3 linked regions of the Homo sapiens genome follow. The protein of the gene in region 3 purifies or fractionates together with the protein of the main gene of each other region. This does not show direct contact. Each region holds a gene or a part of one and is shown on either strand. Other genes may lie near its edges.

What was found. Proteins that work in one complex are often made in the same cells at the same time.
Region 1: the proteins of PLEKHO2 (region 3) and TACC3 purify together in Homo sapiens (affinity purification with mass spectrometry; 4 studies listed by BioGRID and IntAct, with this or other methods). This does not show direct contact.
Region 2: the proteins of PLEKHO2 (region 3) and RNF20 purify together in Homo sapiens (affinity purification with mass spectrometry; 3 studies listed by BioGRID and IntAct, with this or other methods). This does not show direct contact.

The regions. Positions count from the first base shown.
Region 1 is NC_000004.12:1,738,482-1,745,520, forward strand, and holds the end of TACC3 (transforming acidic coiled-coil-containing protein 3), read left to right. Parts: exon of another isoform or gene 1-1,217; coding exon of another isoform or gene 1,218-1,220; coding exon 1,221-1,297; exon of another isoform or gene 1,298-1,477; coding exon 1,478-1,521; exon of another isoform or gene 1,522-2,000; coding exon of another isoform or gene 2,001-2,080; exon of another isoform or gene 2,081-2,344; coding exon 2,345-2,505; intron 2,506-4,913; exon of another isoform or gene 4,914-5,056; intron 5,057-6,036; coding exon 6,037-6,143; intron 6,144-6,230; coding exon 6,231-6,351; intron 6,352-6,433; coding exon of another isoform or gene 6,434-6,466; coding exon 6,467-6,532; 3' UTR 6,533-6,690; downstream 6,691-7,039. UniProt on the Homo sapiens protein: Plays a role in the microtubule-dependent coupling of the nucleus and the centrosome. Involved in the processes that regulate centrosome-mediated interkinetic nuclear migration (INM) of neural progenitors.
Region 2 is NC_000009.12:101,557,814-101,563,844, reverse strand, and holds the end of RNF20 (E3 ubiquitin-protein ligase BRE1A), read right to left. Parts: intron 3,045-6,031; coding exon 2,919-3,044; intron 2,756-2,918; coding exon 2,615-2,755; intron 1,936-2,614; coding exon 1,834-1,935; intron 1,600-1,833; coding exon 1,423-1,599; 3' UTR 501-1,422; downstream 1-500. UniProt on the Homo sapiens protein: Component of the RNF20/40 E3 ubiquitin-protein ligase complex that mediates monoubiquitination of 'Lys-120' of histone H2B (H2BK120ub1).
Region 3 is NC_000015.10:64,844,909-64,851,947, forward strand, and holds part of PLEKHO2 (pleckstrin homology domain-containing family O member 2), read left to right. Parts: intron 1-3,684; coding exon 3,685-3,834; intron 3,835-7,039.

The DNA.
Region 1 (7,039 bases), on a different chromosome or scaffold from region 3:
TCCTCTGCAGGCCTGGGCTCCGGGGGCAGGTGGCCCCTGCATGTAACTTATGTTAGAAATGCACAATGCTTGTTCTCTGGTGCCACAAAGAAATAGTGCTCGAACATTAATTTTCTCAGCAAGGCAGTTTTTACTTTCTGCAGAAAGGGTGCCCCTCGCAGATGGAGCAATGGCAAGAGCACACCTGAACAAGGGAGGGGAAGGGGTTCTTATTCCTGACACAGGTAGCCCTACTGCTGTGTTGTTCCCCTGTTGGCTAAGGTTGGACCACACAGTCTAAGCCAATTCCAATTGGCTATTTTAAAGAGGGCAGGGTAAGAGTCAGAGTGGTGGGGTGAGTAGTTTGACGGGAAGGACGGTTAGGAACAGGTAACTCAAGGTGACTTAGGTCAGAGCAGGTGACCGGGATGAGTCAGGATGGAGCAGGTGACCAGGGAACAGATGTGAACTACTGATTAGGACTGGCGGGAAAATTGTTTACTGAAACTAGAAGCAAGGGGCGAAGAGAACCAGGAATTTTAAATGGAGAATCAAAGAAGAGATCTGGCCGGGTGCAGTGGGTCACGCCTGTAATCCCAGTACTTTGGGAGGCCGAGGTGGGCGGATCACGAGGTCAAGAGATGGAGACCATCCTGGCTAACACGGTGAAACCCTGTCTCTACTAAAAAATACAAAAATTAGCCGGGCGTGGTGGTGGGCACCTGTAGTCCCACCTACTCGGGAGGCCGAAGCAAGACAATGGCTTGAACCCGGGAGGCGGAGCTTGCAGCAAGCAGAGATCACGTGACTGCACTCCAGCCTGGGCGACAGAGTGAGACTCTTGTCTCAAAAAAAAAAAAAGAGATCTGAACATACTGACTTACTGATTCTTTGAAGACAAACTTGGAGTTCACTATATTTAACACTTAGGACCCCTAGTATCTGCCACTGGGCTGCGGGGGCAGCTGCAGGGACACACACCTGTTGGGTGCCTGCTGGTTCCACCCAGGAGCACAGCCAGCAGCCTCATGCCTCCTGCCCCCTGGCAGTCGGGTGCACGTGGAGCAGGTGGCCTTGGCCTCGACAGGGTTCCCAGGGTCCCACTGGAAGCCCCACATGGAACTGTGCCTCTGGGACATTGCTCCAGGGACCTCGGGTGCGGGCTGGCCCCATCCTGTGGGGAGGTCCTGGGAGGGTCAGTCTGGCCCGCCTGCCTGCTGACTTGGGTGTGGCCTGAGCAGGTAAAGGCGACACAGGAGGAGAACCGGGAGCTGAGGAGCAGGTGTGAGGAGCTCCACGGGAAGAACCTGGAACTGGGGTAAGGAGGCCCCGTCTCCTGTCCTCCCCGTCCCCATCCCCCTCGCCATCCTTGTCCCCATCCCCCTCGCCATCCTTGTCCCCATCCCCCTCGCCATCCCTGTCCCCGTCCCCATCCCCACCTGGCCTGGGACCGCTGGGCACCCGAGGCAATGGCTGTGTGTCTGTTCTCCTCCCACAGGAAGATCATGGACAGGTTCGAAGAGGTTGTGTACCAGGCCATGGGTGAGTGCCCGGGCCACCGAGGCCACGTGCCTCCACGAGGGGCTGCCTATGCCCCACCCTGGCCCTGCCCTGCACCCTGCCTAGGACCCCACCCTCCTGAGGCCCCTTTTCCTAACACACGAGTCCCTTCAACATGGGCCCGGCCGTGGAAGCACTGAGGCGAGTTGCGGGGAAGCTGGTGGTAGTGAGGCTGGTGGCTCCCACGGAGCCAGGGCTTGGCAGGCCCCACAGTTGTGCAGATGCTGAGCTAGCAGTGGGGCTGTGGTGGGAGCAGAGTCTGTCCCGCCGTGGCCTACCCCACTCCACCCTGCCCTCGCCGTGCGGCTATGTCTAGCAGCAGCCTCTGTAGGTGTCTGGCAGGACGGGAACACCAGGCCTCATCTGGCCTCCCAAAAGCTTGGGCTCCTGGAGGTGCTACTGTGGGGATCTGTCTTAGGCTGAGTGTCAGCCGGCGGCAGGTGACCGCCTGGCCCTTGCAGTCCCTCCAGGACCACCACGAAGCACGACGCACATCCTGGAGCTCGCCATACCGGCTCCCAGGCCTCACCCTAGGCTCTAGGGTGTTGGGCGCCGCCTCTTCAGGGACCTCTGGCCCAGGCTCCAGTTCCCTGCGGATCTGATGTGGAGGAAACAGCTGTTTCCTGGGCTTTGCATCCGGCCTAGAAGATCCTGGGTGGAGGGACCCATCACCCTCCGAGGCTCACACCCACTGCCCACCTCTCCTCCTGGCGCTCGAGTCCCTTGCCTCATTCCTTGGGCTGTCTCTGGCACCCATCGTTTCGGTTGCCTCCTCATCCTGAACGTTTGCTTTTCTTTTCTCAAGAGGAAGTTCAGAAGCAGAAGGAACTTTCCAAAGCTGAAATCCAGAAAGTTCTAAAAGAAAAAGACCAACTTACCACAGATCTGAACTCCATGGAGAAGTCCTTCTCCGACCTCTTCAAGCGTTTTGAGAAACAGAAAGAGGTGATCGAGGGCTACCGCAAGGTATGTCTCCGCCACCCTGGTGTCCTCACCTCGGAGGCTGATGGACTCATGGTCCAAGCCAGCGGGGCTACAAGCTGCTGTCTTTGCACCTTGGTCCTTGGCCAAGCCTCCCCTTGCCACGGGGGCATGGGATGACCTGTGAACGAGACAGGGTGCAGGAGTCACAGCATAGCTGGTTTGCGAGGCAGCTGAGGGCGGCAGGAGGCAGAGTGAGCAGGGAGGCCATCTGAGCCGTCCGCTGTTGTGTGACAGACGACTCGGCTATGATCAGGCATCTGTGAGATTTGAGACAGCGCTGGTGCACCGGGGCCTGGGGCACCTCGGAAAGGTGTCTGGGCTGTCCGAGCGCTTGGGTCCCAAGGGTTGGGGACCCAGGGCATGCAGTATCCAAGGCGGGAGGCCCACTGAAAGGTGGTCACGGCTGTGCAAGGCCACCCTGGTGTCCTCCTGGCCACGGGACTCTGAGCGCCCCCCACCTTCTGTGCTGGGCAAGGCCCACATGCTTGCTGGAAGGAGGGATGTCTGGGCCATCCATCTGCCCAGAGCAGGCCTGGAAGGTGCCTGCGAGGCCGCCAGAGGGTTCTGCCCACAGCAGCAATGTTGGAGCGGAGGTGCTCAACGCCTCCTGTGGAGGAGCTGGACCTGCAGGTGCAGCTGGAAGAGGGGCTGTCACTGTTGGTGCAAGGGGGTTGGGGACACCAGATGGGTCCCCTGGGAGTCAGACTAAACTGGAAAAGCGGCCCTTGCAGGGCCTGCTGAGCCACACCTCATCTGAGTCCTGAAGTCAGGTGGGTGTCAGTGGCTGGGGCCCAGCTGCCTAACAGAAGCAAGCCTGAATACTCTAGGGAAGAAGGTATCTTATGCTTTAAATTGCTGCTGCAGTTTTAAATTAGTGTCTGGCACAGAATAACCAAGTGTGAAAGGAACAGGAAACATGAGTGAAAATCAGACCCGTTATTAGAGTGAGGCATGGTGATGTACACCTGTGGTCCCAGCTACTAGGGAGGCTGAGGTGGGAGGATCATTTGAGCCCGGGAGGTCGAAGCTGCAGTGAGCCATGATTGTATCACTGCACCCCCAGCCTGGGCAATAGACCAAGACCCCCATCTCTAAAATTAAAAAACAAAAACAAAAACTGTTGATAGACCCACAGGAGCCCCAGACGCTGGAGTTGGCACCGGCAGGTGGTGCCTCAGGTCTGCAGGGAGCAGATGGGAAGGGCCCTGTGGCAGCAGAGTGCCCACCGGCAGCAGAGTACAGCAGTCTGGCCCAGCACAGACGCTTGGAGAGGCAGGACTCTTCACACGGTGCTGCTGGCTTGAGGACACAGCGGCTTTGCTGACCTTCCCTCAGGTTGGGCTGTGGTGTGAGCAGCTGCCTTGGCCTCGCCTCTCCCCGGGGCAGGCCTGTGCCTCAGCTCCCACTGGCCACCTCCCTACTTCCTCATGGAGGCTCCTTTGCACATCTAATCCCATCTTGGACGACCCAGTGCAGACTTTAAAGTAATTGTCTTCTGTATTCAGAAGAGTATTGCTTCAATAGAGACCTTGAAACTAGAAAAGAATCCCCTTCGGGAGACCGAGACGGGTGGATCACTTGAGGTCAGGAGTTCGAGACCAGCCTGGGTTACATGATGAAACTCCGTCTCCTAAAAATACAAAAATTAGCTGGGCAGGGTGGCATTTGCCTGTAGTCCCAGCTACTCAGGAGGCTGAGGTAGGAGAATCACTTGAACCCAGGAAGTAGAGGTTGCAGTGAGCCAAGATCGTGCCACTGCACTCCAGCCTGGGCGACAGAGTGAGACTCCATCTCAAAAAAAAAAAATACAAAAATTAGTTAGGCATGGTGGTGTGCACCTATAGTCCCAGCTACTCAGGAAACTGAGACAGAAAATCATTTGAACCTGGGAGACAGAGGTTGCAGTGAGCCGATATGGCACCATTGCACTCCAGCCTGGGCGACAGAGCGAGACTCTCTCAGAAAACAAAAAATACAGAAAAACTAGGCCGGCTTATGCCTGTAATCCCAGCACTTTGGGAGGCCAAGGCGGGAGGATCATGAGGTCAGGAGTTCAAGACCATTCTGGCCAACATGGTGAAACCCTTTCTGTACTAAAAATACAAAAATTAGCTGGGCATGGTGGCAGGCACCTGTAGTCCCAGCTACTTGGGAGGCTGAGGCAGGAGAATCAATCAGGAGGTGGAGGTTGCAATGAGCCAAGATCGCGCCATCACACTATGGCCTGGCGATAGAGCGAGACTCCGTCTCAAAAAAAAAAAAAAAAAAGCCTGGGCACAGTGGCTCACGCCTGTAATCCCAGCACTTTGGGAGGCCGAGGCGGGTGGATCACGAGATCAGGAGTTTGAGACCAGCCTGACCAACATGGTGAAACCCTGTCTCTTCTAAAGATACAAAAATTAGCCGGGCATGGTGGCACGCACCTGTAGTCCCAGCTACTTGTGAGGCTGAGGCAGGAGAATCGCTTGAATCCGGGAGGCGGAGGTTGCAGTGAGCCGAGATCATGCCACTTCACTCCAGCCTGAGTGACAGAGTGAGTCTCCGTCTAAAAAAAAAAAACAGAAACTAGAAAAGAACCAAATGGAAATTTCTAACAGGTACACAGTTAACAACATTAACAATTCAAAGGGTACAGGTCAGATGAGGGAAGCAGAGGCTGAGTTGGGAACCAGTGTGTGGACGGCAGCCCCCAGAGCCAGAGGGAGAGACGCCGCTGTGGCGGGAGGCTTGACCTGTGCACACGTGAGAGCTTCCGGATGCCGCCTCCCGGACAGACGCTGTTGGGAATTTTCCACAGCAGAGAAACACAGTGCTGTGGGTTTAAGGGAGGCGTGACCTCCGCAGGACATCAGGGGCTGCATGCTGGGTAGGGGCTCAGGGAGAGGCTGCAGTGCTGAGGGTGCTTCTGGGATACAGGGCTGCGACAGAGGAGTGAGGATGGCTGGGCTGTGAGGCCGCTGGGGGCACTGCAGGAAGAAGGCAGGTAGGCTGAGCCTTCCCAAGCAGAGGCCACTCGGGGACCCAGGAACCCCTCAGTTAGGGCTTCTCAGTCACTGAGCGGAAGGTGCCCCCAGAGGGGGCAGCAGCCTGTGAGGAGCAGGCGTGTCTGGGTAACCATGTGGCTCCTGCTGGCCTCCCCTGCCTGTCCCCAAAGCACAGGGCTCAGCTCCAGAGGGAGACGGGCTGGGCTGTCAGTGGTCCCAGGTGCATCCCACTTTCCAGCAGCACTTGGTGCCAGCAGAGGCTGCAGGTGTGGCAGGAGGGGGCCCAGCCGTGAGGGCACCAGGTTCAGGCCCGGCATCTCAGGGTGGAGAGCCAGGGCTGTCCTGAACCTCCAGAGGGGGTGAGCTGGGAACTTGTGTGAAGGGGCTTTTTCCAAAAGGAAAACGGGAGCTACTGGCTCACGGCTGATGCCCCAGACAGCCTCGAGGATCTGCAGGTCCCCAGACACCAAGCCTGGGTGCTCTCCAGCAGACGGCGTGGTACCCACAGCTAATGCCTGCCCCTTCCTAGAACGAAGAGTCACTGAAGAAGTGCGTGGAGGATTACCTGGCAAGGATCACCCAGGAGGGCCAGAGGTACCAAGCCCTGAAGGCCCACGCGGAGGAGAAGCTGCAGCTGTGAGTGCTGGGCGAGGCCCCACCCTGGAGGGAGAATCTGAGCACCTGGGCCCCAGCTCAGCCTCTGCCCCGCCCCTACCCCTCCAGGGCAAACGAGGAGATCGCCCAGGTCCGGAGCAAGGCCCAGGCGGAAGCGTTGGCCCTCCAGGCCAGCCTGAGGAAGGAGCAGATGCGCATCCAGTCGCTGGAGAAGACAGTGGAGCAGAAGGTGGGTGCGGGAAGCCCAGCTCAAGGGGCCGTCTGGCAGCACCTTCTAGAAGGCCCTTGGGCCTGCTGCTCCCTCCAAGCAGGGAGAAGCCCCGCAACTCATCTTCCTCCTCCAGACTAAAGAGAACGAGGAGCTGACCAGGATCTGCGACGACCTCATCTCCAAGATGGAGAAGATCTGACCTCCACGGAGCCGCTGTCCCCGCCCCCCTGCTCCCGTCTGTCTGTCCTGTCTGATTCTCTTAGGTGTCATGTTCTTTTTTCTGTCTTGTCTTCAACTTTTTTAAAAACTAGATTGCTTTGAAAACATGACTCAATAAAAGTTTCCTTTCAATTTAAACACTGAAGCCGCTCTGGTCTTGATGAAGCAAAGGTTTCCCAGCTCTAGCCTGAGGCTGAGCCGACCCGCAGGTGCCCTCCCTTCCCCTCAGAGCTGGCCACTTGGTCCCTGCCTACCCCAGGCTCAGGCCACCCTGCCGAGGGGCAGGGACAGCCAGTGGATAGAGGAGGCTCAGGCCTGCCCAGTCTGCCCCGGCCACCTCGGGTTGGCTACATGGTCCTGGCCTCAGGTACACACATCAAAGTCCAAATGGACTCGTTTTTTTGTTTGTTTTTTTGTTTTTTGTTTTTTTTGAGACAGTCTCTCACCCACGCTGGAGTGCAGTGGCGTGAACTCGGCTCACTGTAAG
Region 2 (6,031 bases), on a different chromosome or scaffold from region 3:
GGTGGTGAGCACCTGTAATCCCAGCTATTCGGGAGGCTGAGGCAGGAGAATTGCTTGGACCCAGGAGGCGGAGGTGGCAGTAAGCCAAGATTGTGCCACTGCACTCCAGCCTGGGCGACAAGAGCAAAACTCCATCTCAAAAAAAAAAAAAAAAAACCCACCACATAATGCAAGAACTCTCACCCTAAAGCTAGAGGCAGCAATATGCTCCCCCAAAAAACAAATTATAGTCTCTTACCCCACCTAATGAACTATGAAAGATAACTGAGTAGTCAAATAAATTAATCTTTTAGGTATAATTTCTCCATAGAATAGACTCAATAAAAGAATTGGGAGAAAAGTGCTTCAATTAAGCAAAGATCTAAATACTCTAAACAAGGCCAACCTCTTAACCTAAGCTGATTATTTCCATGCAAGAAAATTTAATTCTATAACAGCAGATATAAAATCAACTTGTAATAATAAAGACAAAAGTTTCAAAGAAAAACCATAAACACAAATGCAAACTGAATCCTGCTTTAATTCAAGCTTGTGGAGAACAAAGTCCTACAGAAACATTCCACAGAATTTTCTGGAAAAGAGGGATCACAACAACCCTGTAAAAAGGAGACTGAGAGTAATTCATAGCTCACCAAGTTCTCTCCGTATCAAATTTCCAGAATACCCACAAGATTTCTTCACCAGCTCAGTCCTGACTCAACCTCTTCAATCTTTATTTCATTAGAAGACAAAGGGTCATATTATTTAAAATTATTCTAGTCTCAAGAAATTTAAAGACTTGAAGTAGTAGAGCATTCAAAACTTAAATAACTTTAACAAGAAAGCCAGCTGATCTTAACAAGTTACTCTGCTAGTAAATGGGAAATAGACTGAATCATCCTAGACATAATTTCATTAGGGCTGCAAACCACCCAGGGGAGAGTAGCACAATTATACCATTTTGTAATCCACATTCACAAGAAGTTTGCTACACAAATGAAGAAAACTTTGTGCCCATAGACAACTTATTTTTTAAAATATCACTCCCCAAAAGTAGCCATGTTTCCACTTTTGTTCCCTTTTCCACATCAAAAATACCAACTTGATTTCTTCAGGAGGAATGGACAATCCAAGTTTATACAGTGGGCTGGAAAAAGAAAACACTGAAAAGTCTAAAAGCACAAAATAAACAAAGCTGGGAGGGAAGACAGTAAGAGTTATTTGTTTCTAATTCATTCTGAAACCCAAGGCTTGTATTTACCAGTCCTTTCTGCTAAAGTCATCCAGCTACTGAAGAGGAGAGCCTGGAAGTAAAGTCTGGAGGAAAGGTAGTTGACTGATAAACTGTCCTACAGGTGACAGTCAAGGAGAGAAGAGGTAGAGGTTTGGTGGTTAATGAATAAGTTCCTGACTAGCCAGCTCCTCTTCTTCTCTTGACTTAGATCAACCAATGTAGATGCGATGAAAATCATTGGCACCAAAAGCAGCATTACACTTGGGACATTTGCGCTGGCGGGTGTCATAGCGTGTCTTCACACACTCAAAGCAGAAGACATGAAAACACTTAGTAAGAACAGCATCCTTTTTACGCATGTTACAGCACGGACAGGTCAAGCGTGCCTAAAAAGAAAAGATGTCAGAGTTTGAACAACCATGAAAGTTTATGATCCAAATGGCTCTCATATACTACACAACCAAGAAGAAAACCCACAAGGCACTAAAAAAAGAGCATCATTTCCCCCCAACCTCCAAAATAAACCATTCTCTGGTTACTATCATGCAAATTATTCTCCCAGTCTATTAGGCCACTTAAAGCTTTGACAAAAAACTAATCACTAAGGCATTTTTTCTAACCTTGTAATCCTTAATCTCTTCCATCAGAATCTCATCACACTTGGGTACATTGTCTGGTTTCTTTGTGGTCTCCAGCTTCCTGCGAAGTCTAGAGATGTCCTCCTGTGGCAGGATAGCATACCCATTAGACACACTTACCCAAATCTATCATTTTTGAGAAAAATAATAGACTTGAGTTTTCTGTTGTGAAAAGAGGGGACTTTCTATCCTTTTATGGTCAATTATCTTGTAGAAATGTAGAGAACTGCAAATGGCAGGATATTTTCTTTTGTTTCAGAAGAGGCAACCATAATTATATCCCCAAATTAGAATTGCATCTATTACCAATTCAGTCCTGTGAAAACACATCTAAGAGTTTAGAGGACAGTCTATTTTGTTTTATAGTAATTAGTTTTAAGCTGAAGGTAGAACGGTTTAAAATAATTCAGAGACTTACGGATAAAGACAGAAAGACATCATGAGAAACAGCTAGCATGACAAAAATAGAGACATTATACAAGAACTTGAAAATCCTCTACTGCTGCTATGCTGTTACTTCTTTAACAATTTACTAATTCATTAATTTAACAAATATTTATTTTGTGCCTACTAGGTGCAAGGCACCATAAAAGAGTCTGAGGATATGGCAGTGAAGAAAACAGACTTACTCTCTTCCCTCAACAAACTTCCTCAAGTCTAGTAGGAAATGACATACATTGGACTAATGATTCTTTCATGATATGGGTCACTTCCGACCTCAGAAAACACCTAAAAGGTGACAAGAAAAGACAACTGCTTTTACCTGGGCTCGTTTGAAATTGAACATGTCCTTTTCTTTGGTAACACTGTTCTCCACGATCTCATCCTGAAAATCATGTAGCTTCTTCTGAGCCAACTCCAGTTGTGCTTTGAGGTCATCTGCAAGCTGGGCTGCCTCCATTGCCTATGTAGGATGTACAAATAAGTGACACCATTGTATCACCTATTATTGCCAGTGAGGCAAAATGTTAGCCCAAGTTGAAGGAATAAAGCGAACTTACAATCTCAACAGTGTTATACTTATTTGTTCCACTGAGACTAACCATCATTAGATTAATCAATCATACCTTGCGTTTATTCATCTCTAAGGCTTGGGTCCTAAGACCCAGCTCTTTCTCCCCTGTGCCAATGTTGCTCTGTAACAGATGCTCCTTCTCTTCCAGTTTCCTTACTACCTGTAGCTGGGCATCAACCTTTGAACAGAAAATCAGATTTTAACACAAATGAAAAGATTAAAAAAAGAAAAAAAACTATTCTGTTAATCTATAAGCCCACAAAATACAGTATGTTAGAAATCTCAAACTATTACTGATTTTGCCCATGAACCCTTCAAAATACATCAAGACTATGATAACTGAAAGCTTTACTTTTAATATAAAATATTGTGGAAGATTCAGTAAGAGTCTGAAAAATGACTGAAAAGATTCTTTTCCAAATTGCCAAAAATAGAGAATGCATGCTAATGCTTAAAACCTGGCAATTCATACTATAACATATAAATTAGAACTCAAACAAAAGTCCAAGAGTATTTCCTTCAGAATGGCTAGACATTCTAAAAGAGTCTTTTTTGAAATTAATGCACAAAGTAGAATCAAACAATATTAAAGTGTAAAAAGTAAAATCACAAACACCCACCTCCTAACCTCACCCACAACTCATCCCAATATGTAGAGGTAACCATTCTAACAGTTTCTCACACTGCCTTCAAAAAGCATATCAAAAAGATAGTCCACCATGATCAAGTGGGTCTCACACCAGGGATACAGGGATGGTTTGACATCCACAAGTCAATAAATCTGATACACCATATAAACAGAATTTTTAAAAAATCACATGATCATCTCAATAGATGCAGAAAAAGCATTTGACAAAATCCAGCATCCTTTTATGATTAAAACTCTAGCAAAATCAGCATAGAAGGGACATACCTTAAGGTAATAAAAGCCATCTATGACAATCCCACAGCCAACATTATACTGAACAAGGAAAAGTTGAAAGCATTCCCCCTGAGAACTGGAACAAGACACAGATGCCACTCTCACCACTTCCATTCAACATGGCACTGGAAGTCCTAGCCAGAGCAATCAGACAAGAGAAAGAAATAAAAGGCATCCAAATTGGTAATGAGGAAGTCAAACTGTCACTGTTTGCTGATTACATTATCATATACCTAGAAAACCCTAAAGACTCATCCAGAAAGGTGCTAGAACTGGTAAATGAATTCAGCAAAGCTTCACTATACAAAATTAATGTACACAAATCAGAGCTCTGCTATACACCAACAGCAACCAAACTGAGAATCATATCAAGAACTCAAACCCTTTGACAACAGCTGCAAAAAAAATAAAATAAAATACTTAGGAATATACTTAACCAAGAACGTGAAAGACCTCGACAAGAAAAATTACAAAACACTGCTGAAAGAAATCACAGATGACACAAACAAATGGAAACACATCCCATGCTCGTGGATGGGTAGAATCAATATTGTGAAAATGACCATACTGCCAAAAGCAATCTACAAATGAAATGCAATTCCCATCAAAATACCAACATCATTCTTCACGGAACTAGAACAAACAATCCTAAAACGCATATGGAACCAAAAAAGAGCATACATAGCCAAAGCAAGACTAAGCAAAATGAACAAATCTGGAGGCATCACATTACCTGACTTCAACCTATACTATAAAGCCATAGTCACAAAAACAGCATGGTACTGGTATAAAAATAGGCATGTAAACCAATGTAACAGAATAGAGAACCCAGAAATAAAGCCAAATACGTAGTCAACTGATCTTTGACAAACCAAACAAAAACATAAAGTGGGAAGGGACACCCTATTCAACAAATGGTGGTAGGATAATTGGCAAGCCACATGTAGAAGAATGGAACTAGATCCTCATCTCTCACCCTATACAAAAATCAACTCAAGATGGATCAAAGACTTAAATCTAAGACCTGAAACCATAAAAATTCTAGAAAGCAATATTGGAAAAATCCTTCTAGACAATGGCTTAGGCAAAGACTTCATGACCAAGAACCCAAAAGCAAATGCAACAAAAGAAATGATAAATAGATGAAACTTAATTAAACGAAAAAGCTTCTGCACAGCAAAAGAAATAATCATCAGGGTAAACAGACAACCCATAGAGTGGGAGAAAAAAATCTATACATCCAACAAAGGACTAATATCCAGAATCTACAAGGAACTCAAACAAATCAGCAAGAACAAAACAAACAATCCCACCAAAAAGTGGGCTAAGGACATGAATATACAATTCTCAAAAGAATATATACAAATGGCCAACGAACATAAGAAAAATGTTCAACATCATTAATTATCAGGGAAATGTAAATCAAAACCTCAATGCAACACCACCTCACTTTGCAGGAATGGCCATAATCAAAAAATCAAAAAATAATAGGTGTTGGCATGGATGTGATGAAAAGGGAACACTTTTACACTGTTGGTGGGAATGTAAACTAGTACAATCACTATGGAAAACAGTATGGAGAGTCCTTAATGAACTAAAAGTAGACCTACCACTTGATTCCGCAATCCCACTTCCGGGTATCTACCCAGAGGAAAAGTCACGCCATGGAATACTACTCAGCCATAAAAAGGAACAAAATAATGGCATTCACAGCAATCCGGATGGAATTGGAATTGGAGACCAATATTCTAAGTGAAGTAACTCAGGAATGGAAAACCAAACATTGTATGTCCTCACTCATAAGTAGGAGCTAAGCTGTGAGGACGCAAAGGCATAAGAATGATACAATAAACTTTGGTGACTTGGCGGAGGGAGGCAAGGGACAACAGACTACACACTGGGTACAATAGACTACACACTGGGTACAATGTACACTGCTTGGGTTATGGGTGCACCAAAATCTTGGTATCACCACTAAAGAACTTATTCATGTAACCAAACACCACATGTTCCCCAAAACCTATGGAAATTTAAAAAAAAAAAAAAAAAAGTAAAATCACACATACCTCCTAACCTCACCCACAACTCATCCCAATATCCAGAAGTAACAATTCTAACAGTTTCTCATGCAGCCTTCCAGAAATTTTTAAAATATACAGCACAGGAACACAAGTAAACATATACTTTAACGCAAAAAGGATAACAAAACACGTCACTTGATTTTATTTCAGACATGTTTCCAT
Region 3 (7,039 bases):
CCGCTCCCCACCAGACAGGGGACTTATCTTATACAGCGTCTCTGTTACCCACCTCAGACTGAAGGTTGCCCTGGGGCAGAGCCTGTGCTTCCTCTCTCTCAATGCCCCGGCACAGGACTCTGACACGGTGGATTCTTAGTAGAGTTGGGTCAGAACATCACTGGGTTTTGTCAAAGAGCAAAGGTTGTCATAAGCTTCCTGGGATGTGAGGTGCCAACCAAGTTTCTTCTAGTCTCTGTCTCTCGTAACCTGTGTTGTGGTTCCATCTGTCCCCTTCTGTGTACAGAGTTGAGGTGACCTGGCTTCTTTTTTTTTTTTTTTTTTTAATGAGTGATCCAAGGGAGGCAGGCTGGTGCCTAGGGGTGCCTCAGGAGCTGCTCACAGTGGGCAGGAAAGGGCCTGGGTGAGGAGGGATGGGAGGGGAGAGGGCAAAACAGGAAGAACAGCGGTCAGCTGCTCAGTGAGGAGAGGAGGCCGAGAAACTGGGCTGAGCAGGACAAAACCTCCCCTGTGAACCCTGCCAAGGGGAGGGGCCCCTTATTAAAACTTACTGGGGCATAGCCAGGCCCCCCTGGAGGGAGGGGGTCTGAGGGGCAGGGAAGGGGGCTGGGTGGAGGCAACTAGGACTCTGGCCTCCAGCCAGTCCTCCCCTGGGTGGCTGTTTCTGTGGCTGGGCTGTGGTTCACACCATCTGTAGCCCTTCAGTTGTCCCCTTCTCCATACCAAAGTGCTGTTTCGCCTAGTCCTGCCCTGGTCCCATTCATTCTTCAAGGACCTGGACTTGTTTCTGTAGGTAATCCAGTCACAGTATTCTCTAGGCTACATCAGCCCAGAAGTGACAGTGATCTAGGCACAAGTTCCAGCTGTGGCCCTAGGGAGCTTCCAGAGGGTAGAAAGTTTTCAGGAGAGGTCATGAGTGGAGAGAGTTTAGAAAGGGGTGTGAGATCCCTTGGGGTGGTGGGTGGGTCCCCTGAAAGCAAGAGGCGAGCTTGGAGCTCAGAGGTGGGTGGCTGGGCAACAGCTTCACACTCCACAGACCTCACTGCCTTGTTTAAGAGAAACCAAGAGTCTGCCCATCAGGTGGAAGGCCTGGCAGGGGCTGGTGGTGCTGTCCTTGCTGTTGCCGTTGCAGTAGGAGGGTTGTCAGTGTGAAATGTGGGGGTGGGGTTTCCCATTTCCCTGTTCTTCCCTTCTAGCCCTGGGCCTATGACAGCCTGCAGGGCTCGCTGAAGTAGTGTTAGGGCCCTGGGGGTGTCAGTGGTGATGTGGGGAATGGGAGTTGAGTGCATGATGGAATGGGAGAGCCTTTCCCTTCTTGTCAAAGGGTGCTGAAATCCCTCTTCTCCTGGACAGGGTGGCTCATAATCGGCCAGCCTTCTACTTCCTTGTTCCTATATCTGGGAAGACCTTTTTTTTTTTTCGGAGACAGGGCCTCATCCTGTTAACCATACAAGAGTCCAGTGGTGCAATCTCGGCTCACCACAACCTCCGCCTTCCTGGCTCAAGGGATTCTCCTGCCTCAGCCTCCTGAGTAGCTGGGATTACAGGCGTGCGCCACCACCGCCCGGCTATTTTTTGTATTTTTAGTAGAGTTGGGGTTTCCCCATGTTGGCCAGGCCGATCTCAAACTCCTGACCTCAAATGATCTGCCCATCTCGGCCCAAAGTGCTGGGATTACAGGCATGACCCACCATGCCTGTAGAAGAAGACCCTGGGAAGATCATTTGGACCACCCCACTTCCCCATTTCTCTTGCCATCTACAAGTTAGGGAGAGACCCCAAGGTGGGACCCCACATTCCTGGAGCTCCTGGAGATCTGAGGCCAGCAGCTATAGACCAGAAAGGGCTTGTCCTGACTTGGGAACTGGGCCCAGGGAGAGGGTCCCTGAGAGCCAGAGAGGATGGCAGTGACAATAGTAACAATAATGACAGCTGCCGTTTACTAGGTTTAGGGCATCCTGGGAACTGCTCTATATGCTTTGTCTTTACTCAGCAACAAATGTTTATTGAACACTTACTATGTGCCAGTCACTGTCTAGGAACTGAGGGTACAGGAGTGAACAAAACAAAAATCCTGCCCTCGTGGAGTTGGATTCCTTACAACTTCTGCTGTTAGTAGCTGCATTTCACAGATGAAGAAACTGAGGCTCAGAGAGGTTAAGTGGTTTGCTTCAGTCTGCATGACTGCAGCTTCTAAGCCCAGATTCCCCACCACTAGAATGCGCAGTTCAAAAGGGGGTGGGGGCCCACAGTGAGAACCAGGCTGGGGTTCCCCTGCCATGACAGAGACCAGGGAAGCCAGGTCTTCCCAGCTCCTGACAGTGCACCACGCTTACATCTGTCTGGGCTTGTTCTTCCAAAGGCAGCTGTGGCCACAGGATATCCCTGGGGAGAGGCACACCTCTTTTAACTGGGGCCCCTTTTTTGAATTTTATGTAAATTATAACGTAGTCAAAATTAGTCCATGCTAATTTCCTTCTAGCAGCCTCTAGATTCTGACACATTCTTGATCCCCTCTCCTTCACCCCCCACTTCACACTCACGACTCTGGGTACCTATCAGTGAAGCAAAGTGGTTAGCAAAGGGTGTGTATTTTTATTTTCATTTCACGCGTACCTCTTGAGCACCCATTATGTGTAAAAGAACAGGGCTGGGTGCTGGGGACCCAGAAGTGGATCTGACCCCAACCTTATTTGGTAGGCATGTATCTGGCACCCAGCCACCCAAGCAGGCAATCAATGAGGCACAAGATGTCAGTAGCTGGCCCCAAGGCTCCAGGGTGTCTACCCAAGTCCAAGAGAAGGGCTTGAATTTAACTCCTGTGCCAGCCTGTGGTCAAAGACAGAGTCCTTGGAACCCTCACCAGATGTGGTGGCCACCCTAAGGTCCTTGCCTGGAGTGGGGAGGAGGGGAGAGGAGCCTCCTGCTTTGGGTGGGAAGCGGAAGGGGCTGCAGAGTGGGTTCTCTAGAAGCATAGCGGTAGAGAGGCAGATTGCCACTCAGCCTGCCTGTCCTTCCAGTCTTTGTTCTGGGTGGCCTTCCTGGGCCACCCCAACCTGAACTGGGTCCCCCACTGTCCTCTCGCTGCCCTTTGTGTGTTTCCTGTATAGCATTTCACACAGGTTGATGGGTATGCCTGGGTATTTATTTGTTCAGCTCCTATTTTCCCGCACTGTGAGCTCTGAGGACAGAGACTGCCTTACTTTTATTCTCCTGTGATGTTGTAAGCACTCAGTACATTTGTTGACTGATTGAATGAACACATGGAAGCAGAATGGTGGAGTGGGAAAAACGTGGGGTCAGAGAGACCTGCTTTGAATTCTGGCTCTGTCCTCTAGCAGTGGTTTGCCACTCTGTCGAGTCATCCTCCATTCTGAGCTTTAGTTTGCTATGACATGTGGATAATGAGGCTACCATCTTGGAGGGGAGTTGTAAGAGTGAAATGACACTATGTGTATCAAATGTTATACAGTGGCTCAGAGTAAAGTGGCTGCTGCTATTATTGTTGTTATTAGCTCTGATCCTGGGTTAGGAATATCTGCCTTGGGGGTTGTGGGGAAGCTCACATATTATGATGTCATTAGGTACTTAGCCTAGGGACACATCCCTTGTGTGACCTATGAACCTGTGACCTGTGACCCCATGGTAGCAACCCTCATGGTATGAACTGGTGCTGTGTTACAGGGTGTGAAGGAAGCCGGTGAGAAGCCTCGGGGAGCACAGATGGTGGACAAGGCTGGCTGGATCAAGAAGAGCAGTGGGGGCCTCCTGGGTTTCTGGAAAGACCGATATCTGCTCCTCTGCCAGGCCCAGCTGCTGGTCTATGAGAATGAGGTGAGGACCTGCTTGGCCCTGAGATTGGGGGTTCTGGGACAGGGGCAAAGTGAGGGCATTCAAGTTAGTAGGAGGACCCTGGGTCTGGGGCCAGAAGACCTGCTCTACTTTTGCCATGCTGTGCAACCTTGAGCGAGTACCTAATCCTCTCTTGGGTCTCTGTATATGGGGATAATACCTCCGAGGACAAATCTAGGGTTTCTAGATGAGAGTTCTTTTCTTATTTTTTTAAACTTAATTCTTTTTTTTTTGGTGATGGAGTCTTGCTCTGTCACCAGGCTGGAGTGCAGTGGCGAGATCTCGGATCACTGCAACCTCCGCCGCCTGGTTCAAGCAAAGCAATTCCTCTGTCTTAGCCTCCTGAGTAGCTGGGACTATAGGCATGCATGCCACCATGCCCAGCTATTTTTTGTTTTTGAGAAAGAGTCTCGCTCTGTAGCCCAGGCTGGAGTGCAGTGGTGCGATCTCAGCTTACTGCAACCTCCATCTCCTGGGTCCTGGTTCAAGCAATTCTCCTGCCTCAGCCTCTGGAGTAGCTGGGATTACAGGCATGCACCACCATGCCCAACTAATTTTTTGTATTTTAGTAGAGACAGGGTTTCACCAAGTTGGCCAGGAGAGTCTCAATCTCTTGACCTCGTGATCCACCCACCTTGGCCTCCCAAAGTGCTGGGATTATAGGTGTGAGCCACCACGCCTGGCCCTCTTTTTTTTTTTTGAGATGGAGTTTCGCTCTTGTTGCCCAGGCTGGAGTGCAATGGCACGATCTCAGCTCACTGCAACTGCCGCCTCCCAGGTTCAAACAATTCTCCTGCCTCAGCCTCCCAAGTAGCTGGGATCACATGCGTCAGCTACCACACCCGGCTAATTTTGTATTTTTAGTAGAGACAGGGTTTCACCCTGTTGGCCAGGCTGGTCTCGAACTCCTGACCTCAGGTGATCCACCCACCTCCGCCTCCCAAAGTGCTGGGATTACAGGCGTGAGCCTGCGTGCCCAGCGGAGAGTTCTTTGAACTGTATGTGCATCTAGTGTGCAAGTCTTTTCCTGTCCCTGGGCAAGGTTCCATATGAGTGAATGTTATGGAAAACTGAAGCCTGCTCCATTCAGCAGTGGTAGTAGAAATAATAATTAGCAGGCCGGGTTGTAGTGGCTTACACCTATAATCTCAGCACTTTGGGAGGCCGAGGCAGGCGGATCACCTGAGGTCAGGAGTTCTAGACCAGCCTGACCAACGTGGAGAAACCCCATCTCTACTAAAAATACAAAATTAGCCGGGTGTAGTGGTGCATGTCCGTAATGCCAGCTACTCAGGAGGCTGAGGCAGGAGAATCACTTGAACCTGGGAGGTGGAGGTTGCAGTGAGCCGAGATCATGCCATTGCACTCCAGCCTGGACAACAAGAGTGAAACTCCATCTCAAAAAAACAAAAAAATAATAAGTAGCACTCGTACTTGTTTGGAGATATGCTCTTACATATCTCCCTATGACAAATTGCAATAGTCCCATGAGAGTGGTCTTCATGTTAGATTTTTACAGAAGAGGATACTGAGGCTCAGGGTGACAAGATGACTGTTCAGCATCTCCCAGTGAATGGAGGAGTTAGGTCTAGAAGCAAGTCCAGCGTGCTTTCTACCAAGAGACGCCAGCAAGTAAACTCCAAAACTTATTTTTGTTAGAAAATCTCTAAAATATGTTAAATATTCTCCGCTTTCTTCAACAGAAGATTCTGGCCTAAATAAAATCTTTCCCTGGTGGCTCAGTGTCATCACCTGTCAGACCCACCTGCAGAGTGGGTTCTCTAGATGCACAGGGGTAAAGAGGCAGATTGCCTCTCTGTTTTGAACTGGCAGGAGGCTGTACTTCTCATCTTTTCTTTCTCCTTTAACATCAAGCTGCTGGTTGCAACTTCTGCTGTCCTTGTGCCTCGAATAGCCCTCACTTCTTCCCACTTCAGATGCTTGTTCCCCTTCTGATTTCAGCAGGCTTGGGATTTGGACAACCAAGGATGCTAAGCTTGCGTGTTAACTAAGAGTCAATTAAGATGTAGGTGAAGACTTGAGGAAGAAAAGTGGTTTTTACTTGTAGATGCTATTTGTGTGCTGTGGTTGAGGCTATCGGAGGGCCCATCCACTGAAAACAGGGTAGCAATATATGCCTTTGACAAATGAAATACCTGGGGAAGAATTGGCCTGGGGGCAGAAGGGGGAGCCTGCCTCTTCCTCATCCACCTCTCCCAGCCTGCCTCAGGCTATCTTGGCAAATTCACAGTTGTCCCAGGACAAGAAAGATTAGGCAACCTGGATCCAAAGTGTTTAAAGGAGCTGCCTCGGAGAAACACCTTGTCTGACCTACCTGAGTTGCTGGCTCGTGGAGTTTGTTTGGGTGTCAGAGAAGCAGTGGGAAGAGGGCAAGGGAATGAGGGTGCGTAGACAGCACCCCCAGATGTTCTCTACTGCTGCTCCCACCAAAATAGGATGTGCCACAGTTGAGAATGAGGCAGCAGGGGGACCTTTTTTCCAATAAAGGGGGTTGTCACAGCTTCTTCCAGTGCCAGCTGCCATGAGATTTAAGTAACAGGCTTCAGCTGTCAGCCTGTCAGGTACTGTCAGACTTGTCCTAAACTGCCTCTCTGCATCTGGCCACAGCTGGGAAGCAGGAAGGATTTCACATCTCCCAAACATGAAAAATCTAAATCATGCTTTTTTCCCCTTGTTTGAAAAAGATTGCTATTAAAAATGTAAATGCAATTTCAGGAACTTAACACTTAGGGGTGGGGGAGCTTGGCCCTGGAGTAGGAATTGAGAAATGCTTATTAGCTCAATTCCTCTTTCTGATGTAAGGAACTAGGCGAATGCGAATGGCTCTTGGCTGTTTCTTTGCTGTCAGAGAGGCTGACATTCCAAAGATGCTTCCCTCACCCATTGCCTACTGGTTTATCCGTTTTTCTGAGCTGCAGAAGAGCTGGGATGATTCAGCGTCTTGGGGTGGGGTGGAGAGGAGACCCAGGACAGGCAGCTATTGGGAGCTTAATGGTAGAGGTGGATGGACTTTTTGTTCCCAGGCAGAGGAGGGTGTATTCGGGCCAGTGGCGGTCCAGTTAGTGGAGGCCTGTGGACACGGGGCAAGTAAGCTGCTCTCTCTCAAGCAAGGATTCTTCCCCGGGCAGTTTCCCTGCTCCAGATTCCCGGGGAGGAGGAGACTTCC